Linked DNA regions of Homo sapiens. The protein of the gene in region 6 purifies or fractionates together with the protein of the main gene of each other region. This does not show direct contact. Each region holds a gene or a part of one and is shown on either strand. Other genes may lie near its edges. The genes, in order: SYNJ2, SNX8, ECI2, AP2A2, FCHO2, SNX9 and MLYCD.

Region 1 (3,500 bases), 120 kb from region 6:
CTTCCAGCTAAAGCACGTCCTGCGGCGAGTCACCTTGGTTAGCCGCACGGGTCAAGCTCTGCAAGGAGCTTGCCCTCCTCGTCCTCCCTTCCCTCTGCTCCCCTCACCGCCCTCCCCTCCTCTTTTCAGAAGCTGCTCTGGGCTTCTTGCCACGCGGGCGACACGCCTATGATCAATTTTGACTTCCATCAGTTTGCCAAAGGTGGGAAGCTAGAGAAATTGGAGACCCTCTTGAGGCCACAGTTAAAGCTGCACTGGGAAGACTTCGATGTGTTCACAAAGGGGGAGAACGTCAGTCCACGGTGAGGCTCGCTGCGCACTGTGCCGCGTCTTCTGCTGGGGGGAAGCGTCAGTCCACGGTGAGGCTCGCTGCGTGCTGTGCCTTCTGCTGGGTGAGGCGGCAGAGGGGCCGTGCAGTCTAGGACATGTGCCCTATGAGGGGCAGCTTCCTTCCCTCCCCACTCAGTTACCCTTGTGGTTTCCTGGGTCATAAGCTTGGCGACGCCGGGAATCTTGGGTTCCAGCTTCTCATCTCCCTTCCCACAGTAGGAGACAGGCTTTTGAATTTCTCAAGGAGATGTTGAGTCATGGTTTTCTGGCAAAAGAAATGAACTAATAAAGGGGACTGCATTAAAACATGGAGCTCCACGCTGTGACGCAGGCCTGTGAGAGTGAGGGCCACAGTCGCGGTGGGATGGCTGGCATAGACTTAGATTGCTAGAGGAGACCAGGGTATGGACTTCCCTGTTCAGAGCAGAGGAGAAAAACGAAGTCCAGTTCCCTCAGGTCACATGCAGGGGGTCCTCATTATTTGCAGATTCCATATTGGCTTATTTACCTATTCCTTAAAACTGATTTGTAACCCCAAAATCAGTATGCAAAGCATTTTTGCTGGACAGAGTATTTAAATACTCTGGCCTCGTATTTAAACAAGTTTCCTTTTTAAGATTTAGTACCATGTTTTTCACATTTGTGGGGTCTTTGTTAGGGGCCCCCCTTTGTTCGGGGATCTCATGGTTTAGAATGGCCCCAAGCAGTGTGCCGAAGAGCTGTCTAGTACTTCTGAGCACAAGAAGGTGGTGATGTGCTTTATGGAGAAAATGCACGTTAAGATAAGCTTTGTCCCTATATGAGCTACAGTGCTGTCGGCCATGGTTCAGTGTTAATTAAGCAAATATATATATTCAATAAGGTGTCTTTATATGGAAACATACATAAAACAAGGTTGTATATTGATCAGTTGATAAAAATGTGACCAGAGGTTTGCAGGAACCTAACCCTATATTTCCCCTAGGAGCGATGGTTCTGTGTTCATGTCCAATTCAGTGTTCCTACAACTTTATAGAACATAATTGCTATAAATAACAAGGACCAGCTAAACGTAAAACGACCCAGCTGTGCAGGCTACTGAGTGTGTGTCCTGGGGTCTGCCTGCCTTTCCAGAAGTGCTGGGGATCCACTGGGATGGACACTGGGGTTTCTGGGGGGCTATTGATGAGGAGGTGAGGGGTTCCCTCTTAGAACATGTTTCCTCACACCTGTAATCCCAGCACTTTGGAAGGCTGAGGTGGGCGGATCACAAGGTCAGGAGTTCGAGACTAGCCTGGCCAATGTGGTGAAACACCGTCTGTACTAAAAATACAAAAATTAGCCGGGTGTGATGGCACGCACCTGTAGTCCCAGCTACTTGGAAGGCTGAGACAGGAGAATCGCTTGAACCTGGGAGGCGGAGGTTGCAGTGAGCCGAGATCATGCCATTGCACTCCAGCTTGGGTGACAGAGGTGAGACTCTGTCTCAAAAAAAAAAAAAAAAAAAAAAAAAAAACCATGTTTCCTTGGGAGTCAAAAGTCAGACATGGGCCTCTGTGCTATGGCCACTGCTTCTTTGAAAACAACATATAACCGTTTACATTTCTTCTTGTCCTAAGTTTTCAGAAAGGCACTTTGCGGATGAACTGTCTTGACTGCCTGGACCGAACCAACACTGTGCAGAGCTTCATCGCGCTCGAGGTGCGTCCCTGCCACAGCCTTTTCGGCCATCTGTGCCAGGTCCTGTGACTTCAGCTGGACAGGCTGGGCTGAGCACCTTTAGCGGCAAGATGAGGGTGGCATCACCAAGACAACCTTCTGACTATGGGGAAGGTGGACAGGGAGACACTGGGACATCCAGAGAGGGGTTCCCCAGGAGGCTGCTTTCTCTGTCGTAGGCACACTTTCTCACACCCTCTTGTGAAATGCATCCCAGACATGGTGGCCCAAAGGCTCCTCGGGAACAGCGGTTGTGTGTAATGATTATCGTGGATGCACCATTGGCCAAAGGCAGTGTGAGGCTGGCCGGATGAGGCTGGATTTGAAGCTGGGGAGGGAGACCTCTGTCTGCATGGCCCCAGCTGCCTGGTTGACCTCTCCTGGCTGGGGGGTCGGGGGTAGGGTCAGCACCCCCTGCTGTCCACCACTGTTTGCTCTTCAGCCTCTGGCATTGGGTGGGGCGGGGCGGGGTGCAGGGGCGTTCAAGTGTCAGGGGGTGAGAGGAGGGCTTGGGTGGACCCTATAGATAAAGTTGGGGTGAGATGTGGGAAGTCACTCTCTGCTGTGGGAACTCCTCATCCTCTGGAGGGGCACAGAGTCTTCCAGGCACAGCGTAATCCACAGGCTGCCGAATAAGGAACCTCCTGGGACAGTGGCTGCAGGGCCTCTGTGGGAGAAGCCAGTGACAGCCATCCCTTATTCCTCCCCAGGTCCTGCATCTGCAGCTCAAGACCCTGGGGCTGAGTTCAAAACCCATCGTTGACCGCTTTGTGGAGTCCTTCAAAGCCATGTGGTCTCTGAATGGCCACAGCCTGAGCAAGGTGTTCACAGGCAGCAGAGCCCTGGAAGGGAAGGCCAAGGTAGGGCCCCGCCGAGGGGGCAGGGTGGGGGCCCCAGGGACCCCCCTCACGGCCTGCGGTCTGGGCTCTCGGCAGGTGGGGAAGCTGAAGGATGGAGCCCGGTCCATGTCTCGAACCATCCAGTCCAACTTCTTCGACGGGGTGAAGCAGGAGGCCATCAAGCTGCTGCTGGTTGGGGACGTCTACGGCGAGGAGGTGGCAGACAAAGGGGGCATGCTGCTGGACAGCACGGCGCTCCTGGGTAGGGCCTGCCGCAGACAGGGCGAGGCAGGGAGGTAGGGTGCTCCCCAGCCCCACTTTCCCACCGCCTCTGTGCTATCCAGAGAGCGGGTGGCAGAGGTGCCTGGGATCTGAGCAGTGGACCATGCACCTTGCAGCTGTCACTGCCTCTCCCGGGAGCCTGCGCTTTCCTGCTGGGCCTGGGAGCTCACGCTTCCTCTGTCTCGGCTTGGACTGTGTTTCCATCCTGAGAAGCGAGAGACACCAGGCGGGCTCAGGGAGAGGCCGTGCACTCTCCTAAACGCATCGGTGCCTTTGAATGCTAACCTACTCCAGAAACTTCCTCAGCTGCCTGGGCTCTTGGGCCCTTAGCAGGTGATGTTGGCTTTGGGA
Region 2 (3,500 bases), on a different chromosome or scaffold from region 6:
CTTCCCTCCACTATTGTCCCATGACCCTGCCAAATCCCCCTCTGCGAGAAACACCCAAGAATGATCAATAAAAAAATAAATTAAAAAAAAAAAAAAAGAAAAAAAAAAGAAAAATACCTTGGCCCTGGTAGCCAGCTTACAGTTCAGGAATTCGTCCCCGACGCACTGTGCTGACTCCTTTAACTTGTTCTGCACATCCTGCAAAAGGAAAACACACAGCTTCACCCTCTTCTACTAGCAGCAAGAAAGCTGCTGTGGGGTATGGGTCACTGTGGAGCGGGAGGTCGTCTTTCCTCAGGAGAAACACATTTCCATATGTTGGCTTTGACATTAGTATTCTGCAATCTCTTGACTCTCCCTTAGATGTTTTTCTCACCAAACAGGACAGCCTGGCTTCACAGCAGGAGCACCACAAACCTGCAGCCTCTCTCCAGAGGCACAGCCACTCCATCCGCAGACGGGGGGCAGCTCTCCAGAGAAACAGCCACTCCATCCACAGACCAGGGGCGGCTCTGCAGAGAAACGGCCCCTCCATCCACAGACCCGGGGCGGCGTCAGCCCCAGAGATACCTGAGACCCTGGTAGCTTCCAAAAACGCAATAGAACAGGGCAAAAGTGTCTTCCTTCCTGGGAATGCATCCATGGCGCCAGGGACACCAGAGCCCAGGGAGCTGCTGGGCAGAGGGACAGGCCCAGCCCCTGGCACCGGAGCCCTCTCATCTGAAAGAGGCCTCCTGGGCAAAGCCGTGCCTTAAAGTCAGGAGCCACCCAGGAGATACAAGGGGAAACCCTAATATGCAGCTGTTTGCGTGTCCAGGAATTCTCAGGTTTCAGAGATGCCTTAAAGATCATCTGACTCAACTCTCATTTTACAAAAAAAAAAAAAAAAAAAAAAAAAAAGACCTGAGGCCCAGCATGGTGCGTGCCTGTAGTCCCAGCTACTCAGAGCCTGAGGCGGGAGGATCGCTGGAGCCCAGGGGTTCAGGGCCAGCCTGGGTAACATAGTGAGACCCCATCTCTAAAAACAGAAAGCAAGCAAGAAAACTGAGGCCGGGAAGTGACAGAGAATGATACCTGTGGGAAGGCCACAGGGAACGTCCTGCCCCCAGAACAGGGATATTGCCCACCTGTGACCCACTGCACCCCTGCCCACCGCCCCTCCCAGGTCCTGCCACATTCCTCTGCTGGCAATGCAGATCGCCTCCAAAGGAAGGTTTCCAACCCCAGGGCTCAAAAGATCCCACTGCCTGCTCCAGACATCCCCGGGGGCATCCCAGGGACATCTCAGGCACAGGGGGAAGGCCCCTCTGCCTCCGAGAGGAACGAAGACAAAAGGAACCAAGGCTTGTGTGAAGTCAGCCTGGGAGAGGGGGTGTCTTCCTGCAGCAGGGACAAGGACAGAGGCCGTCAGGTCCCCATTCAAGACGGGGTTTCCCTGAAATAGAGGAGAGCCTGGAAACCTCTATTCCAGTGGAGCCCCCGCCCCTCCCCGCACAGGGAGAGGGTCCTGCAGGCACAGGTGGAGGAGAAGCACAGGACCCGCCTTCCCTGGAGGGGCTGGCAGCTGCTTCCTCCTCCAGGAAACAGGAGCTGGGCTGCAGGGTTGTTTTTTGTTTTTTTGAGACAGGGTCTCACTCTGTCGCCCAGGCTGGAGTGCAGTGGCACAATCACAGCTCACTGCAAGCTCCACCTCCTGGGTTCAAGCGATTCTCATGCCTCAGCCTCCCAAGTGACTGGGATTACAGGTGTGCACCACCATGCCTGGCCTCAGTTTTGTTTTGGTAGAGACGAAGTCTCGCTATGTTGTCCAGGCTGGTCTCAAACGCCTGGGCTTAAGGGACCATCCAGCCTCGGCCTCTCCGAGCGCTGGGATTAGAGGCGTGGGCCACTGTACCTGCGAACTGTAGCTTCTTGACACACAATAAGGCTGTGCCGCAGCAGCTGGGAGGAGGGAAGCCCCACTCAGACCTCTGACGGAGTGCATGTACAACAAGTTAATTCCCGGATGCAGGTGTGGGCTGTGGCTCTGACAAGGAGGCTCAGCCTGTGTTCCAGTGGTCCTTAGTCAGACAGGGCCTTGTTTTAAGTCAACACTTCTTCCCATCTGGAGTCTCTGGCACCTCCCTAAACCCTCCAAACCATCCAGCCTAAATCCTCAAAGTGACCACAGAGATCCATGATCTCCACGCGGATTTACAAAATCCTGCAAAGTCAACACCAGGGACACCTCTGAAAATCACATTCAGACTGTTATCTGGAAAGGAAAGAAGTCTTGTCCATGTCATTCCTGCTGGGCGTCCAAACAAGGGACCAGGAGGATAAGAAACCACACCTGAGAGAGGAAAAGGCGGGTCCGGAGGCTCGGGGACTCCCCGGGGCCGGGACATGGGCAGGGCAGACACACTCACCGAGCCGCTGAAGGACAGGAAGAGCTTGAGGACCACATCCTCGGAGAACAGGGGGTGTCGCGCCACCAGGTTGACGAAGCGCTTCAGGGCTCTCCTCCTGGCCTCGATGAACTCCCTGTCAGCTGGAGGAGCACACGGGGTCACTGGACAGAGTCCAGGGCGCCGGCCCCCATCTTCTGCTCTGGGCGAGTTCTCAAAACTCTCCCTAGAGGTGGCAGAGGGCCCAGCGGCTAGCAGAGGGCACTGGCTGGGCCCCCAGTGCTGCTCAGACAATGGGTCTGAAAAGGCCGCCCAGAGCAATAACCTCACCCCCAGAGGCCCCCTCCAGCCACACACACTTGGGTCCAGGAGCTGCCAAGGAAAACCACAGATCTGCTTGTTTCCATCGGGAGTCCTGGGAACCACGTGAGTGGTCACTTTAATCACCTCCGTTAAAGACATCTTCCATAATCCCCTCCTGGCACTTCTCACTGCAAACAAATGGGTTTTGCTACGCTCTAACACTAACGCAACCCAGGTCTTCTTTTCTTTTTTTTTTTTTTGAGACAGAGTTTCGCTCCTGTTGCCCAGGCTGGAGTGCAGTGGCGCAATCTCGGCTCACTGCTACCTCCGCCTTCCAGGTTCAAGCGATTCTCCTGTCTCAGCCTCTGGAATTAGCTGGGATTACAGGGGCCCGCCAACATGCCTGGCTAATTTTTGTATTTTTAGTAGAGATGGGGTTTCACCATGTTGGTCACGCTGGTCTCCAACTCCTGACCTCAGGTGATCCACCTGCCTCGGCCTCCCAAAGTGCTGATATTACAGGCGTAAGCCACCGCGCCCGGCCGAGTTTTTCTATTCACTGTGCTTATAACTTACTCTGCAAAGGATGCAATTACTCATTGCTTTCATTCGGGTTAAATATTTTCACTCCAAGGGGAAAAAAAGTAAAAGCATATACTGATGCATTCAGGACATTTCAATCTGAACACAAACAAAAATGGTATTTAAATACTTTTTTTGAGACGGAGTTTCACTCTTGTCGCCCAGGCTGGAGTGCAGTGGTGTCATCTCGGCTCACTGCAACCTCTAACTCCCAGGTTCAAGCGATTC
Region 3 (3,500 bases), about 150 Mb from region 6:
CATCTCTTAATCCTGGTCTCACCAGTTGGAAGGAAGGAACCCTGATAATCCATCTCCTAATCCTGGTCTCACCAGTCGCCCTGCTGTGTGGTGTTATCATAACTATAATAATGATAGAATGAGTTCCTTATCACTTCCCTCAGGAGAAATGCTTAAACGCTTATTCATGTACAGTCATCCCTTGGTATCCGATGGGGATTGGTTCCAGGACCTCCGTGTGGACAACAAAATCCGCGGAACCTGAAGTCCCCCATAAAAAGGCATAATATTTGCATATAACCTCTATATACACTCCCATATACTTTAAATCATCTCTAGAGTTATTATAATACTGAATACAATGTAAATGCTATATTAAATTGTTGTTATACTGTATTGTTTAGGGACTAATGATAAGAGAAAAAGCCTGTACATGTTCAGTATAGATACAGAATTCTTTTCCAGGTATTTTTGATCTGTGATTGGTTGTCCATGGATGTGGAACCCGTGGATACGGAGGGCAGGCTGTTTTATGTAAAGTCCATGTGTCTTTTCCAGTATATTTGTATCTATAAGTATCAGCCCTCTTCCTCATTTCTTTCCCACACTGAAATCTCATCTAAGGTTGAAATTGCACCTGTTTTAAATGCATTAAAAGCTATATAGCTGCTTGTCCAAGATTTTCAGAAATGTTGCTGATTTAAAATTTTGAGCCACCTTCCTTGAATACCATTACAGTGTCTTGAAAATTCCAGCCTTTTGGCAGTCACTAACACTTCCCAGACTGCCAGGGGCTTCCTTGAGGTCACAACAGAGACGTTGCTTTGTAGAAAGTTTTCTCTGACCACCTCCCACTCTGCCCACACTAGATAAGCCTCAGCACCTCCTCTGAGTTCCCTGCTACTTTGTACTTTCCAACCCCCTCCTCATTTGAACATGTTAATTCCAAATTGAACATGTTAAGTCCTCTGTTAATTCCAAAAGCTCAAGGACTATTTCTTTCTTGGTCCCTTTTGGAAAAAAAGTGGTTTATAGCCTGCAGCTCCTGCCATAGCACCAGGTACATAATATGCACCAGGTAACTGTGAAAGGAATAAAAATTCCTTCAGTTATGTTGGTCCACCTTTTTGGTTATAAAATACAACCAAAATAAATGTTAGGCACTTTGCTGAGAGCAAGCTTGCAGCCTGACATTTGTTGAGTCCATTGATTGATGATTCCTGTGTTCAGAGTTCTTTTCTTTTCCTTGTCTTCCCATTACACAGATGTATCATGAAATTATGCGTGCACTTAAAGCTGCCAGCAAGGATGACTCAATCATCACTGTTTTAACAGGTAAGACATTTTCTCAGGCATCCTAATTAAATTTCTATTTTGAGGGGCCTCTTAATAGATAGGAAATTGAGTTAAAAAGCTCTAAGACCTGGAGGCCGAGGCAGGTGGCTCCCGAGGTCAGGAGTTTGAGATGAGCCTGATTAACATGGTGAAACCCCATCTCTGCTAAAAATATAAAAATTAGCCGGGCATGGTGGCACACACCTGTAATCCCAGCTACTCAGGAGGCTGAGGCAGGAGAATCACTTGAACCTGGAAGGCAAAGTTTGCAGTGACCCGAGGTCGCGCCACTGCACTCCAGCTTGGGTAACAGAGTGAGACTCTGTCTCAAAAAAAAAAAAAAAAAAAAAAAAAAAAGGCTCTAAGATCTTTTCCAGTACTGTCATACTCTGATTTATAAATATACAAAAAATGTTTAAAAAAACACAGATACCCACTCCTTCGCAATTACCCAACATCAATTAAGACACATATGTCCACCAAAAGACTTTTACAGGAGCAGACATGGTAACCTGATTTATAACGGCCAAAACCAGAAAACAAATGTTCAAAAACACATGGATGAATAAACAAATTGTTGACTATTTGTACAATGGAATACTCAGCTATAAAATGGAATAAATGATATACACAAGAATGTGGATGCATCTTTAAAACACAGTTCAGCAAAATAAAGACAGGAGTGTACATACTGTATGAGTCCATTTGTAGAAAGTTCTACAGTAGACAAAAGTTCTTCTCTGTGGAAATTGAAGTCAGAAAGTGATTGCCTTGGAGCAGGTGGGGTGGGATAGCTAGGAAGGAGCCTACGGGAAACTTTTGGGGTGATGGAGATGTTCTGTATCTTGTTTTGGATGGTGATCTTGTGGGTATTTAAAATTATTAAAACTCATCTAAATGAACATTTAAAAACTGGTTGTTTTATTGTATATAAATTGTACTTTAATTAAACACACACACTCAGAAACATACTTTCAGTGGCTCTTAGAATAAAGAAAAAACTTCCTCATGGGATCTACAAAGCACTGTCAGGTCTATTCTGCCAGTCCTCATCCTGCACCGACTTCCCCCTGGCTTTCCCTGAGTCAGCTACAGTGGCTCTTACTTCATCTACAGTGGGGATAACCTCTCCAAAGAGCCTTTGCACAGGCTGTTCCTTTGTGTAAACTGTTCTTCCCAGCCCTCTTTTTCTAGCCCACCTGGCCTCTCCTTCAGATCTCAATTCAGTTGTCGCTTCCTTAGGAAAGTTCTTTCCTGAACTCCCTGATTAGACCAACCCTCCTGGTACATACCCTCATTTCATGACGCACCACTCCTCTATTTCAACAGTAGCATTAGCTACATTTATCGGTGTGTTTTTATAGATCAGTGTCCAGCGTACTCACTAGTTTGTAAGTTAGGGCAGGAACCATTGCTCGTTCTCCAATGTATTTCCCTTGCCTAACCATAGAGTTTGGCATGCAGTAGATACTCAAGAATTATAGGATGATTGAATGAGGGATCTGTTGATTTTCTTACTTATAGGAAATGGTGACTATTACAGTAGTGGGAATGATCTGACTAACTTCACTGATATTCCCCCTGGTGGAGTAGAGGAGAAAGCTAAAAATAATGCCGTTTTACTGAGGTAAGAGTTACTGACCTTTGTCTGATCCCAGAGGGCCCGTTCTTAGTCATCAAAGTGGTATTTAGTTGAGCAAAAGTGCAATATCTGCTTCTCTGTGTCAGTGCAGTTAATTGTGACTTTGGACAAGCATATTTCTCTAAACTGCCTCCATCCATAGGTGGGCATTCATTCTTTCTCTTTGACCTCTGTTACCTGTTCATCCTGCTGGTCTCATGAGATTTGACTGGAAAACATAAAAGTGAGCTATAGTTGTAAACAAAATTATCTTGCACTGAGGCAGAGGAATTTAGCAAATTCTCATCCAGCCAGAGGAATGGGAGATTTCCATGAACGCTGAAGGTAGGAGACTCGGAGGAGTCTTGTAAACACAGGAGGAGGTCATGAAGGCTTTTCTCTTTATTCCTGCCAAATCTGTAATTCCCACTTGTTGTGATATTGCAGCATGTGCTCAGTCACCCAACCTAATCTCTAAGACTGCGGCTGGTTTACAGCCCTGAACTCACTGTCCAGAATACAAGATTCAAACCAGGGTTGACCCATAGGTCTCACTGGTTGGTCT
Region 4 (3,436 bases), on a different chromosome or scaffold from region 6:
CCTGGGATCTGCAGTTGGGCAGGGCTGCCCCCAGCAGGGTCTGGGCTGGTAAGAGAAGCTGCCTCTGGCTTTGGGCCCCTGCCCTCCCTCCATTAGGACTGTTCCGTCTCTGGCGAAGCCCACCGTCCTCCGGGGGCCACCCCCATCTGCCCGAGAGCCCCTTCTGCACCATCTGTGGTAGGATCAACTGGAGGATCCCCACGGGGCCTCCCGTTCCCCAGGAAGGAGCCCTGGGCTGCACCTCAACACACTGTACAGTGGGGAGCCCTGCGGCCAGGCTGGAGGGGTTCCCGCATGACCTGAGTCCCAAAAAGCTCCACCACACACCCAGAATCAAACCGGCGGAGCAAAGGGCAGGTCACTTTCTGATGCCCGCTGCCCGTGAGCCCACTGCTGAAGGACAGGTCGGGGACCTTGGGGTCTGTGCCTCACGCGACCCCCGGGGAGCTATGAGGGTTACATGGGATGCTTTCCCCCCAAAGAAAGCGCGTGATCCGGGGTGCAGTTCTAGCCTTTATTTTTCTTTGACGAGGAGTGCCACACTGAGGGCCCCTCTGCAGCGCCGCACAGGGAAGCGGTGCCTCGGGGAGCAGCCTTTCCTCTGATGGCGGGAGGGGTCAAGGGATGCAGGAGATCCACGGCAGCACACGCAGCCTGCAGGCGCAGCACACAGGCAGAGCACTGCCCAGCAGCTGGAACATGAGAATGAGGGCCACACCACCCAGCTGCAGCACAAGCCCAGCACGGCGTGTCACGGCACCTGGCACCACCAGACCCAGAATGGCCTGTGCGAGAGGCGCACGCCACTGACGTGGCTATGCTGTGATCAAAGCCCGACACGCCGGAAGAAGAGCCGCAGACATTGTGGGGTGCACACACTGCAGGGGAGCTGTGGAGACCCTGATGGGTCCATGAGCCCCTGCAGCTGCCCCAGGGACCCGCACAGCAGGCAACTGAGGGCCAGGGTGAAAACCCTCAAGCACATGTGGCCACCCACCCTCCCTGCCTCCACAGCATGTCAGGAAGCCAGAACCTGTGCTGGGTGTGTTTAGGACAAACAAGGCCACCATCCTGGGGACAGAGCGCAAGGCCCCAGCCTTGGCTCCTAGGCCGGCCCCACTCTCTCGCCTCTCAGGTGTCAGACGTGCAGCCTGGGTGCTGAGTCCAGATGACAGGTGAGACACAAGCCGCAGGTGGCACATGGCATGCGGCCAATGGCCCCTTCACTTCCTGACCACACAGAGGCGTCCCTCCTCCACAGCCCCTCCAGGGACGACTGGACGGGGCCGGTGGAAGGACTCAGGCCTGCACCGTGGCCTGGGGACGCCCACTCTGACAGGAAAGAGACGAGCACACCTCTGAGTCTTGCGCCACCGGCCCACACTTTACCCTGGAGTCCTGGGGGCCCTGCGGGGCCGGCAGGACGCTCCTCCCCTGGCTGCACATCCAAGGCCTCGGCGACTGCAGGAGCATAACAGACGCCCTTCACAAACAGGAGCTGGGAAAGGAGAACAGTTACATCCGGCCAGGACACGTGCTTTTGCCAGAAGTCATTACAAATACAAATGTTTCTAAATTCTAGATTAAAATCCTGCCTGGGAAAACAGTCCAGCTGGGACTGCAGCAAAACCAGGGTCAGCTGTGCTCCTCCCAAGGGCCCAGGACGACGCCAGGTGTGCAGCCACCAGGACGGCCACACACCAAGGCTCAGCCCACGCCATGCACAGTGGCACTGCTGCTCCCAGAGGCTCCGAGGCGGGGTGGGCGGCAGCACGGGCCATCTCAGTGACACTCCCACAAACGCCACGTTCACGCCAACTTCTAATTTCCCTTTAATTTGTAGATTTAACCACAGAACTGTCTCGATTTTTATAAAAATTGATCCCAAGATCCACCTTCTGCCGTGGCTGCCACAGTCCAGGCTGAGCTTTTCCTCCTGAGCCACACACGTGTGTTCCCGTCCAGCCCAAAGGGGAGAGGTGTGGGGCGGCGGGGCGGGGAGGCGCCTTGTGCTGTGGCACTGGACACGGTGCTCATCTGCAGGATGGCCACGAAGACAAACGGCACAGACGAAGACAACACAAGACACACGAGCCTGGTCTTCCATCCTCAGGACTAAAACTGCGCTGAGAGCAATTCACATAATCTCTGAGAAACGGCTTCCTTACTTGTGCGCAGCGTGAGCCGGTACATCTGAAACAGAGAGCACAGCAGGTCAACGGGCACGCCGAGGCTCACACAGCCCTCGGGTCCAGGATCCGCCATGCAGAACCCTGTGGGCCATGCCCAGGGACCACTCTCTGGAGGCACCCACAACTCGGCAGAGGCCTGAGCACCACACACACTGTCAGCATGAAAACTGAGGGCTGGCATGGGAGCGCCTGGCGTCTCGTACGTAGCTGGCGGGAGTGCAAAGTGGCACGGCCACCTGGAGAAGCTGTGGGATGTTCTTGCAGCACTAACCACACACAGGCCCTGGGCGACAGCAGCACTCCTGGGTGCCACCCAAGTGAAACGGAGACAGGTGTCCGTCGCCAGAACGGGACGTGGTGAGAAGGAACAACGCGGTGACAGAGAGGAACAGCTGGGAGAGCCACCGCCCAGGGCCAGGCTGCTCCATGGTGGGACGATGCTCCACGGTGGCCAGCTGTGGGGAGGCTGGGATGCAACCATGTATTGACAGGGTGGTGGTTAAACAGGCACACAACATCTGTCACAACTGACTGAACTGCACTAGGGATGATGCTCCACGGTGGCCAGCTGCGGGGAGGCTGGGAGGCAACCATGTATTGACAGGGTGGTGGTTAAACAACATCTGTCAAAACTGACTGAACTGCACTAAAGAGCTACACATCTCACCACGTACATTGTGCCAGAATAAAAAGCAACTCAAGTGTGTTCCACCATTTCCTGAGGGCCTGACCTGGGCTTGCAGGTTCGGCTCCAAGCGCAGCAGGCATCCAATCTGGGTGGTTTTCGTGTGGATGATTCCAGCTCCCACGAAATTCGCAGGATTAGGATCAACTTCTTCAAGAAGTGCAGAACCAAATCCAATGATCTGTCCAAAGAAACAGGAGAATGAGGACCCTGGCGCGGGGTCGCGGGCAGCGTGTCCCCCGGGGCCGCCCCTCCAGACCCTGGCGCTGGGTCGTGGGCTGCGTGTCCCCCGGGGCCGCCCCTCCAGACCCTGGCGCTGGGTCGCGGGCTGCGTGTCCCCCGGGGCCGTCCCTCCAGACCCTGGCGCGGGGTCATGGGCTGCGTGTTCCCCGGGGCCGTCCCTCCAGACCCTGGCGCGGGGTCACGGGCTGCGTGTCCCCCGGGGCCGTCCCTCCAGACGTGTTACCTTGGCTTTGGTGACTTCTGTGTCCATTGGGTGCTTTGCTTTGAAGATGTTCTGCACTTCCTGCTGTGGACTGTGAGAAACAGCAAAGGCGAG
Region 5 (3,500 bases), on a different chromosome or scaffold from region 6:
AATTTTTTTGTATTTTTAGTAGAGATGGGGTTTCACCGTGTTAGCCAGGATGGTCTCGATCTCCTGACCTCGTGATCCACCTGCCTCAGCCTCCCAAAGTGCTGGGATTACCGGCGTGAGCCACCGTGCCCGGCCTATTTTAACTATTTTTCTACATGAAACAAAGTTTTGACTGAATTTTGACCATGACCTGTCATGAGGTCAGGTGTGGAATTTTCTGCTTTTGGCATCATGTTGGTCCTCAAAAAATATATAGATTTTGGAGCATTTCTGATATTTTGATTAGGGATGTTTGTTTGTTTATTTATTTATTTGAGACAGAGTTTCGCTCTTGTTGCCCAGGCTGGAGTGCGGTGGCATGATCTTGGCTCACTGCAGCCTCCGCCTCCCGGATTCAAGCGATTCTCCTGCCTCAGCCTTCCAAGTAGCTGGGATTACAGGCACCCACCACCATGCTCAGCTAATTTTTGTATTTTTAGTACAGACGGGGTTTCACCATGTTAGCCAGGCTGGTCTTGAACTCCTGACCTCAGGTGATCTGCCAGCCTCGGCCTCCCAAAGTACTGGGATTACAGGCGTGAGCCACCGTGCCTGGCTGATTAGGGATGTTTAATCTGTACTGGAAATTGAACTTCTTTACCTTGCTGTTAAACTCACACATTGATATACTAATATTAACTTTTTTGGGTGAACAAAGTATTACTCTTGTAGTAATAGTATTTTAAAATGACAGAAGAACTTAAAGGAGCAGGAAAGAGTCACAGTACTATCAGCGAGAGGCAGTTACTGTTAATATTTCCTTTTTGTTAGAGAGCTGGTTTTTGTGCAAATTTGGTTGGGAAAGAGTTTGGAGATTAGTTTAGATATTCTGAGTTTGAGGTGGTTCACATATCTTAATTATGTTTGGGGCAGTTAGATATTGAACAGGTGGGTCAGTGCAAGAGTAGTGTGAAGATCTGGATTTAGACATTAGAAGCAGAAAGTTGGTTGGACCAATCAAAGTAAATGGAGGGATGATGGTGGTTGTAGAATGTTCCCCTATTAAGGGTAGCACACATTGAGAAGAGCCAGGCAAAAGGTAAAACTATAAGTTTTGTAGTGTTAAGAAGGCCAAACAGGCCGGGCGCAGTGGCTCATGCCTGTAATCCCAGCACTTTGGGAGGCTGAGTGGGGCGGATCACAAGGTCAGGAGTTTGAGACCAGCCTGACCAATATGGTGAAATCCTGTCTCTACTAAAAATACAAAAATTAGCTGGGTGTGGTGGCGGGTGCCTGTAGTCCCAGCTACTCGGGAGGCTGAGGCAGGAGAATCGCTTGAATCCGGGAGGCGGAGGTTGCAGTGAGCCAAGATTGCACCACTGTACTCCAGCCTGGGTGACAGAGCCATATTCCGTCTCAAAAAAAGAAGGCCATACAAAATGTGTATTCTGTATTTATAGGTTACATGTCTGTAGGATAATTTGTGTCTTTTAGAATTCTATATTTAATGGCTGTGGATGTTTTTTACGGAATAAAATCTCATATGCTAAACAGTAGTTATATAAAACACAGTTTTCTAGTGTGAAATATTTGCTAATATTTTAGATCTGATCACAAAATAAATTAAGCCATGAATGAAGTTCAGGATTTCAGACTTGATGATATATTTAGTTTTGTGCAAATGACTGTCATTAATCTCTTGTTCTATTAAATGTGCATCACAGTGTTGAAGAATAATAAAACTAAGTACAACAAAGAATTATTAAATACAAATGACACACTTATCACAGTGAACCAGCTTACAGAGACAGAGAGAATACAAGAAGTAGCACTCATGTATTTCCTGTTCAGATAAGCATTGGTACTAAAGATAAAAAGAGTTGTGATTCCATTAAAATTTTTTCTGTGGCTGAGCGTGGTGGCTCATGCCTATGATCTCAGCACTTTGGGAGGCCTAGGTGGGAGGATTGCTTGAGCCCTGGAATTCCAGATTAGCCTGGGCAACATAGCAAGGCCCCATCTCTACAAAAAAATACAAAACTTAGCTGGGTGTTGTGGGGCATGCTTGTAGTGTGAGCTACTCAGGAGGCTGAGGTGGGAGGATTGCTTAAGCCTAGGAGGTCAAAGCTGCAGTGAGCTATGATCATACCACTGTACTCCAGCCTGGGTGACAGAGCAAGACTGTTTTAAAAAAAAATTTGTGTGTGTGATATAAATTATTTTAGTTCTATACCAGAAAGGACATTTGAAGATAGGCCGGAAATTCATGACTACATATATGTACTTATTTTTAACATGTAATTTTTGAGGTATCTTTTTGTTTTGCACTTTTAATTGTATTTTGATAACTTTGCTGTTTTTGGTCACTAAATAAGAAGTATTATGATGTGGATATTTGATTTAACAGAGCTACCATAGAGGAGGCATACTCCAGGTCAATGACAAAACTAGCAAAATCTGCAAGCAATTATTCACAACTTGGGTGAGTTAATTTCTTCCTCTTTTTCAGTGTTTATTTAGGCAAAGTTCTTAAGGATTCTAGGTTCCTTTTGAGGACATAACAGTTCAAAAGCATAGTAAAATATATGCTTATTTAAAAGTATCTGTAAATATTAATATATTCTTCACTTGATAGAAAATATAATTGAACTTGCTGAATCAGTCAATGCAGTCAAAACTAAATGAAATTTATTTTTTCCCTTTTTAAAAACTAGTCATTCAATAGTGTTTGAGATTATAAATGTTATCTTATGCACATGCAATGTATTTATTCTAGTTGTCTGTAAGTTCCTATTTAAATTCTGTTGTAGTTTAACAGTGATCTTTAAAAACTCACTTAAGATAAACTTTATTGAAATGATTAAGATGCATTAAAAATGTCTCCTGTGATTTTATAGACTGTCATTAAATCTTCCTTTTAAAAATTTGTATTAAAAATGTGTTCCTTGAAAAATGAAAATAATGAAAAGAATACATTTAAAATGAGATGTGCTCATTGCCATAACAATTATGGAAAGAATAATTATCTAAAAATTGGGCTTTTGCATGTTTAAATTCACAGAAACTTTATTTTTGATGAAGTATTTTAAATGGAATACTTGTTTTAAATTGAAGTTTGATAATAGTTAATTTTTAACAATAGACAGTGATAGAAAGGCTTCTGATACAAGTATAAATACTAAATCAATTCAGAAATTAATATAATTAAGAGGGTTAAGACTTGTGATAATGTAATTAACCCATTTCTATATTCCTGAGGTCCAAAAATATTTTAAATAACCAATGACAAAAAAAATTCAAGGTCAGTCTGTCAATCATTTTATTCATTATTTTAATTTCATCTTTTGCCTAAATAAAGTTGCCATATATACCACTATTATTTCCACTGGTTCCTTGTTAGAACCTTAATTTTCTTTTTTACTTTTAATAAGTTATTCCCATATTTTTTATTTTCTTAGAACATTTGCACCAGTATGGGATGTATTCAAAACATCTACAGAGAAATTAGCAAATTGTCACTT
Region 6 (3,500 bases):
GAGAGAGAGTGCCTGTGTGCACATGCTGCCCTGTACCTAGCCACATGACTTCCAAAACCTGCTAATGCCTGATTTCCATTACGTGCTACTCCTCAAATGGCAGCGGCTTCTGAATATTACAGAGATGGTGTGCTGTTTGCTTTTCTCTTTTGTTGTAGCATAAAACTGTTCATTTTAGCTTAGTGACATTTGTCAAGAATAGCAACCTTTTTGCTTCCAAGGGACTTGAAGGAAGTTAAATTTAGATGCTTTCCTCTCTTCTTATTTTGTGGAGGTATTTCCTGTTCAGTAGCAAATCAGTTATAGAATATATTAGCATTGTTATATTTTAAACTAATGACTAATCATTTCAGCTTTATTCATACTGTTGCATTTTATATTTCACAGGGAGCAATAGAAAAAGTGAAAGAAAGTGACAAACTAGTTGCAACAAGTAAAATCACCCTACAAGACAAACAGAACATGGTGAAGAGAGTCAGCATCATGTCTTACGCGTTGCAAGGTAAGATGAAAGGGTCCTTATGAGGTGCTGGTGGAAGTTTTTTTTTCCCCAGCAAAGTTTCCCTTGATAGAGAGAAATCCAGATGTGAGCAGCAGTTAAGTAAGTGAGACCTTTTAAGCCCCTCGTTTGCAGGATCCCGGTGCTGATGAAAATCTGTAATATTTATTTAATTTTTCACCTGTCCACCTTATCTGGCTATAGATGACAGCTTGATTAAAACTGTACATTTTATTATTTCTGAGAGACATTTAAGATTCCTTTTGTAATCTGTGGTATCATAATGCTCTATTAAATGCCAGAGCCCAGCTTTTAGCAGTCTGTAACCTGCGTGCCTTGGGATCATGGAATGTGAAGGGGTTTGGGTGTGTCATTTTAGGCACAATTTTTTTGTGTCAAGAAAAAAAAAAGATGAATTTCTATAGGTTTGAGTGTTTTTGAGCAGATGAGGGCAGCAAGTGGATTTTTCCTGTTGGCGGATGGGTGGATGGCACTTGGATGGGCAGAGAATGGAGAGCGTGTTCTGTTAGGAACAAAAGCCACAAAATTGTGGTGCTAGATTGTGTCATGGGCATGAAAGAGTAAAACATACTTAGAGGTTATTGGGAAATAAATTTTGATTGTGAAGGAACTTGAAAGCTCTAGACTTGATGCAGGCATTAAGAAGCCATTAAAAGGGAGTAAAAAAAAATCAATCCTCAAGGGAGAAGGATTTGCTGGTTATGGAGGGGAGATTGGAAGATGCAGACACTGTCCAAGAGCCCAGCCAGAAGACCATCTCACTGTTGTAGTCTGAGCTTTGAGGGCCTAAAGATGTGGTACTGGGGAGAAGAGAATGAAGCACATTTGCAGGCTTTTCCAAGGAACAGCTTTCAAGACTGGGGCATTCATGGGAGAAAGAGAAGGATGAGGGAGGTGTCCAGAGCCAGGCCACTACGGCAAAAACGAGGAACCCTGATTGAAGTTTCGGGTTTTGAAGGGTTTGAAATGGGGAGTTTGGTTTTGAACTTGTGTTTGAGGTTATCCAAATTGAGAAATACAAAGCTTTGTATAACTTCAAGTAACTGAATGTAAAATGTAGAACAGTTTGCATGTCATGGGAATCTGTGCAGCCGCTGGCTTTCTCAGCCTGGAGGGTTTGGGAGAAGGCGGCATAGGAGGCATCCGAGGGAGGCAATGAGGTCCTCTGATGACGAAGACTCCTCTAGAGTTGGGGGCAGGGGCAGGGGGGACAGAGAAAGAAGGAATCCATGTATTCAGCAAACATGAAGAAAGTTGTCCCTCAGCATCCAGTCCTCCTGCCCTGTGAGAGGTTGAGTTCTGACAGCGTCGCTGGTGCTCAGGGGCAGCAAGGCTTCCCGTACTGAAGAAGGGTCTCCCGCTGTCCCACACGCTGCCCAGCCTTTCACCAGAAACCTGCTGAAGCAATTGCTGTGCAGGAGGGAGCGGGGCAGGGACCCCAGCTGCCTGCTAGGTCCAGTGCAGACACACCAGAGGCTTTGAACTGCAGTCATCTGTAACAAATATGACCAAGTATTTTCTATTTGATCGATTCTGTTAGAGTAATAGGCTGCATTTGGGTGATTTATCTGTATTGGATTTTATAGTTTTGAATATGCAAGACAGTGAAAGTCATTCATTTACTGGAAAGTAATGTTTGTCATTAGCTTGTTTTGTTTTGTTTGTTTTGTTTGAGACAGTCTCGCTCTGTCACCCAGGCTGGAGTACAGTGGTGCAATCCCGGCTCACTGCAACCTCCATCTCCTGAGTTCAAGCAATTCTCCTGCCTCGGCCTCCCAAGTAGCTGGGATTACAGGCACCTGTTGCCATGCCCGGCTAATTTTTGTATTCTTAGTAGAGATGGGGTTTTGCCATGCTGGCCAGGCTGGTCTTGAACTCCTGACCTCAGGTGATCCACCCACCTCACCTCCCAGAGTGCTGGGATTACAGGTGTGAGCCACTGCGCCCAGCTCAACTTGTTTTTCTAACCTCTTAGTAAAGTGATTTACCAAGAACTGACAACAGCAGCCAACCAGATTAGGTCAGGTTGATGATTAATTGTAACTGAGCAGAGAAACCAGGTGTTGTCATTTGAAAACTTGAGGGAAAACTGATTGATGTTCTGATTTGGGTTGTAGCTGAGATGAATCACTTTCACAGTAACCGGATCTATGATTACAACAGTGTCATCCGCCTGTACCTGGAGCAGCAAGTGCAATTTTACGAAACGGTGAGTGGGCGTCCACGTGCCTTTCGCATGTGCTTGAGGAGAGGGTTCCTGGTAAACCACTTTGACCATGTAAAGTTAATCTGTTTGTATTCTTTAATCCTAAGTAATAAACCAAAGGAGCCTAAATTTTGGACAGGATTTTTTTAATCTCCTAATTCCATCTGCCCTTTGCTTTTTGGATAACACTGGGTTAAAAAAGATTTTCTTCTGAAGCAGGGGTCTTGGATGCTAGTTGCAAGGCCCCAAGAAGTTCCTTATTGTGCAGCTCCTTCCCCCCGTCACAGCCTCTCTGTGCCTCTGTGCACCAGGAACGGTGCTGAATGAGATGAGGTCACCCAGCCGTCCCTGGGACTCCGTTGGCAGCTGGAACAGGAGCCTGGCACCACACAGGAAACCAAAGGCAGCCTTTGCTTTTTGTGAATGAGGTTTTCACAGTGCGCCATGGAAATCGCAGAGAGAAAACCAAAAAAGCGAGATGTGGGATGGTTTTATTCACAAAACAATAACGAAAACTTAAATTTTTCTTACCTCTGCTTAGTAATTTTGTTGTTTACCAGAGTCTATAGAAAACAAAAATCTAGTAGCATGTCTCCCTCAGACACCTGCAGGTAAGGTCTGTAATGTAGAATCCAGCCTCCGCTGGCGGCCTTGCTGCCTACCCAGCTCCCCTCTGGCCATGGGATCTAAGCCATGTTCATGGGGAGTGGTGAGCAAGCCCTCTGCTCAGCCATACTGGTGGCATCTGCGAGCTGGACACTGCTGAAAACGCCT
Region 7 (3,500 bases), on a different chromosome or scaffold from region 6:
ATATATGTATGTGTATATGTGTGTGTGTGTGTGTGCGTGCGTATATATATATATATATATATATATATATATATATGGTTTTTTGTTTTGTTGTTTACGGTTTTTTGTTTGTGTTTATTTTTTTGTTCATGTTTATGTTTTTTCTTGTTACGTTTCCCAGGCTGGTCTTGAACTCCTGGCCTCAAGCAAGCAATCCTCCAATCCCAAGTGCTGGGATTATAGATAGGTGTGAGCCCAGATGTAATTTTTTTAAAATCCCTGTCGCTTAAATCAGTCTTAGAATAGAATTAGATTGTTCTGTACCTATAAACTATCAACTGGGATCTGATATTGTAACCTCTCACCAGAATCACTTAATGTGGTATGATCTGATCTATTTTTTTAATCTGATTTTTTTTTTTTTTTTTTTGAGACAGAGTCTTGCTCTGTTGCCCAGGCTGGAGTGCAGCAGCACAATCTCTGCTCATTGCAACCTTCGCCTCCCAGGTTCAAGCCATTCTCCCACCTCAGCCTCCTGAGTAGCTGGGAATACAGGTGCTTGCCAACACATCTGGCTAATTTTTGTATTTTTAGGAGAGATGGGGTTTTGCTATGTTGGCCAGGCTGGTCTGGAACTCCTGACCTCAGATGATCCGCCCGCCTTGGCCTTCCAAAGTGCTGGAATTACAGGTGTGAACCACTGTGCCTGGCTGTGTTCTTACTTTTTAAAATGTTCTTTTCCTCTGATCTGAGTGAGTTTGGAGGCTTGTTACTGCCTGGATTTGTGGCCTCCTGAATGTAGAGGAGTTTGGAGGTATGTGTGTCCCTGTGGTTGCATGGTAGGTGTGGGTATGAGGATGTGATGTGTCTGGGGGATGGTGGTTTATAGGCTTTTTGTTTTTCTCCAGAGGCCCAGTTGGTTGATGACTTCAGTTTCTTAGAGGTGAAATCCCAGTGAAACCGAGTCGAATCCCCAGTAGAGGGGAAGGTCTGAGCGAGGTTCAGTGATTTGTGGGCACTCGAGGAAGGTTGGCCTTTAATTCATGGAAAGGGTTCCTCATGGGCAGTTTGGACCTTGCTGTTAGGGTGGAATGAGAGGTGCTCCAACCTTAACAGAGGCACAGAAACTAGAGAAGGGACCTGGTTCCCACTGCCACAGCCACCCGGCCATGCTAGACACCTGCGTACCCTCTGCCTTTTAGTTAATTGAGTACTCCTTGTTGGTTCTAGTAAATTCTGTGCTTACCTATGCTAAATAATACTTATTTTTAGATAGGACAGTATACCCATAGCATCAAGTGTACACCTGCGGAGTGTCAGCTTACGTGAGTGGGAATTTTCCCCAAATTTCTCAGCCTCTGCAGTGCTACCCTCATCCATGACTTTATCCTCCCTTCCCCAGAGCAGGGCTTCTGGACAAGGGAAGGTAACTTTTCTTCACATACCAAAATAAGCAGATCTTGATAGAGCTTCAAAAGAGAGGGAACCAGTTTCTCTTTTAAAAGGAAAAGTGGGCTGGTCTAAACGGTGTCATACAAGTCAATGGAATTAACAATACACAATACACAGAGCCGGGTGCAGTGGCACGCACCTGTAGTCCCTGCTACTTGGGAGGTTCAGCTGAGCCCGGAAGTTCAAGTGCAGCCTAGGCAACAGAGCAAGACCTGCCTCTGAAAAAAAAAATAAGAAACACTCCAGCAGAATCCACTGAGAACTGTCGCTGCCCTTAGCATCACCAGGATATTCCCCGCAGTTGTGTTTCTCAGTCTTGTATTGGTGATAAATGGTGCCTGAATTAACGCACGTACAGTTGCAGAGGCCTCTTTCCCTGGTGGTGTTTGTATCCTGGCAACGTTGCCGCGTGCTGTGGCTCATCCCAGCCTGAACAGCTGCTGCCGGTGTTAGAACTGAGCAACGGAGACTTCTAACCTTTAGCCTGGATTCCCAGTTCTCGTGTACCAGTGTCACATTTTGTAGCTGTCAGGAGCCCAAAATAGAATGAAGAGATCTGTAGGGGAGGAGCTTTCATCAGCCAAACCATTTCTTTCATAATTAATATTAAATTGATAGTAAAACTAGGTATTTCCAGCTTTTTTCATATCACGAATGTAAGACAGATACCAGTACCTCTTACGCAGAGCTCAGCTCATCCGTTCCTAAACTGGGGTACAGAAGCCCTCCTGGCCCCTGGGATGGTCCATAGATAAGTATCAGAGGAGTCCATGTACCCCAGGAAAACGTATGCACAATTTTACTAATGTATTTGCAGTGTTTTGGGGGCAGGGCCTATGGTTTTTAGCACGTAAGAGTGTGAGAGGATCCCAGGAAGATTAAGAATTGCTATAGTCAAATGCAGAAAGTACAGTTTTACAAAGGGCCATTCTGTGTCACCTAGCAAATGATCTCTTTCATCCTGCCCTCTTGCTACTTCCTAATCACGATTCATTCCATTTTTCCATCTTTTTCATTTGATATCAATCTATTAGTGAATGCTTTGCGAACTATAAAAATGAATCAGAAGTGGATCCTGCTTTTATGGCGTTTACAACCAAGTAAAGGAGATTGAGTCATGGAATGTAGAGTTAAAAGGAATTGCAAAGATCTTCTGGTCCAGCTGTCTATCTAATGCTTAAATCCGTTTTCAAACAGCTCCGTTGAGTTCTGTCCACCTGTGCTTGATGGCTTCCAGTGCTGAGGGTCACCGTCTCCCAGGATGACCTCTGTGGACAGCTCCAGCTATTCAAAAGTTCCTCTTTACACTAAATTGAGTCCACATCTGACTGCCCATGACTTCCACCAGTCAGTCCTAGATTTCCTTCCCCGGCCCCCATGGGGTCACACAGAACAAATTTGTGGCCTCTTTCGTGCCCTAGTGCTTAAACATGTAAAAGGAGACCTCATCTCCTTCCGAAAACTTCTCTGAGCCATCACCCCAAAACCTGCAACTCTTTCTCAGGCGTCAAAGTTCTGAGTCCTTTCACCCTTTAACAGGGATTAAAATGTAAAATTGTTTTATAAAATTTGGAAGCTGAGACAGGAGAATCGCTTGAACCTAGGGAGCAGAGGTTGCAGTGAGCCAGGGTTGCACCACTGCACTCCAGCCTGGGTGACAGAGGAAGACTCCATCTCTCAAAAAAAAAAAAAAATTCTAGCTGTTGTAAAGCCATTCTTATAGGTGTTGCCCATTGTGTTCTTTATGACCCTTGTAGAGAGATTCAGAAGGTCATTCTTGTATCAGATGTCCTGAGATGTTTACTGTTATTTAATAATAATGTTCAGTGGATCTGTTACTATGTAGTTTATGAGTAACAAAGACCCAAAATAACAGTGATTTGAATATGACAGAAGTTTGTCTGTCATGTGAAAGTCTAGAGGTGGGCAGCCCAGAGCTGATTCTGCTCTTTGGTGCTCTTGGTGGATTCAGACTTGAATCTTGTTGCTCTGCCGAGAAAAACCTTCATCTCCAAAGCCACGTCGTGGCCCAGGATGGCTGCTCCAATGCCAGCCATCACACCGCCTTC

The links.
Region 1: the proteins of SNX9 (region 6) and SYNJ2 purify together in Homo sapiens (co-immunoprecipitation; one large-scale study listed by IntAct). This does not show direct contact.
Region 2: the proteins of SNX9 (region 6) and SNX8 purify together in Homo sapiens (pull-down; one study listed by IntAct). This does not show direct contact.
Region 3: the proteins of SNX9 (region 6) and ECI2 purify together in Homo sapiens (co-immunoprecipitation; one large-scale study listed by IntAct). This does not show direct contact.
Region 4: the proteins of SNX9 (region 6) and AP2A2 purify together in Homo sapiens (co-immunoprecipitation; 3 studies listed by BioGRID and IntAct, with this or other methods). This does not show direct contact.
Region 5: the proteins of SNX9 (region 6) and FCHO2 purify together in Homo sapiens (co-immunoprecipitation; one large-scale study listed by IntAct). This does not show direct contact.
Region 7: the proteins of SNX9 (region 6) and MLYCD purify together in Homo sapiens (co-immunoprecipitation; 2 studies listed by BioGRID and IntAct, with this or other methods). This does not show direct contact.

What each region holds. Positions count from the first base shown.
Region 1 is NC_000006.12:158,061,863-158,065,362, forward strand, and holds part of SYNJ2 (synaptojanin-2), read left to right. Parts: intron 1-129; coding exon 130-302; exon of another isoform or gene 303-359; intron 360-1,928; coding exon 1,929-2,010; intron 2,011-2,738; coding exon 2,739-2,888; intron 2,889-2,963; coding exon 2,964-3,129; intron 3,130-3,500. UniProt on the Homo sapiens protein: Inositol 5-phosphatase which may be involved in distinct membrane trafficking and signal transduction pathways. May mediate the inhibitory effect of Rac1 on endocytosis.
Region 2 is NC_000007.14:2,269,442-2,272,941, forward strand, and holds part of SNX8 (sorting nexin-8), read right to left. Parts: intron 2,531-3,500; coding exon 2,409-2,530; intron 199-2,408; coding exon 118-198; intron 1-117. UniProt on the Homo sapiens protein: May be involved in several stages of intracellular trafficking. May play a role in intracellular protein transport from early endosomes to the trans-Golgi network.
Region 3 is NC_000006.12:4,125,576-4,129,075, reverse strand, and holds part of ECI2 (enoyl-CoA delta isomerase 2), read left to right. Parts: intron 1-1,244; coding exon 1,245-1,314; intron 1,315-2,838; coding exon 2,839-2,941; intron 2,942-2,956; exon of another isoform or gene 2,957-3,500. UniProt on the Homo sapiens protein: Able to isomerize both 3-cis and 3-trans double bonds into the 2-trans form in a range of enoyl-CoA species. Has a preference for 3-trans substrates.
Region 4 is NC_000011.10:1,009,305-1,012,740, reverse strand, and holds the end of AP2A2 (AP-2 complex subunit alpha-2), read right to left. Parts: intron 3,414-3,436; coding exon 3,344-3,413; intron 3,059-3,343; coding exon 2,924-3,058; intron 2,194-2,923; coding exon 2,116-2,193; 3' UTR 501-2,115; downstream 1-500. UniProt on the Homo sapiens protein: Component of the adaptor protein complex 2 (AP-2). Adaptor protein complexes function in protein transport via transport vesicles in different membrane traffic pathways.
Region 5 is NC_000005.10:72,987,041-72,990,540, forward strand, and holds part of FCHO2 (F-BAR domain only protein 2), read left to right. Parts: intron 1-2,386; coding exon 2,387-2,461; intron 2,462-3,437; coding exon 3,438-3,500. UniProt on the Homo sapiens protein: Functions in an early step of clathrin-mediated endocytosis. Has both a membrane binding/bending activity and the ability to recruit proteins essential to the formation of functional clathrin-coated pits.
Region 6 is NC_000006.12:157,938,246-157,941,745, forward strand, and holds part of SNX9 (sorting nexin-9), read left to right. Parts: intron 1-387; coding exon 388-502; intron 503-2,637; coding exon 2,638-2,729; intron 2,730-3,500. UniProt on the Homo sapiens protein: Involved in endocytosis and intracellular vesicle trafficking, both during interphase and at the end of mitosis. Required for efficient progress through mitosis and cytokinesis. Required for normal formation of the cleavage furrow at the end of mitosis.
Region 7 is NC_000016.10:83,902,115-83,905,614, forward strand, and holds part of MLYCD (malonyl-CoA decarboxylase, mitochondrial), read left to right. Parts: intron 1-3,500. UniProt on the Homo sapiens protein: Catalyzes the conversion of malonyl-CoA to acetyl-CoA.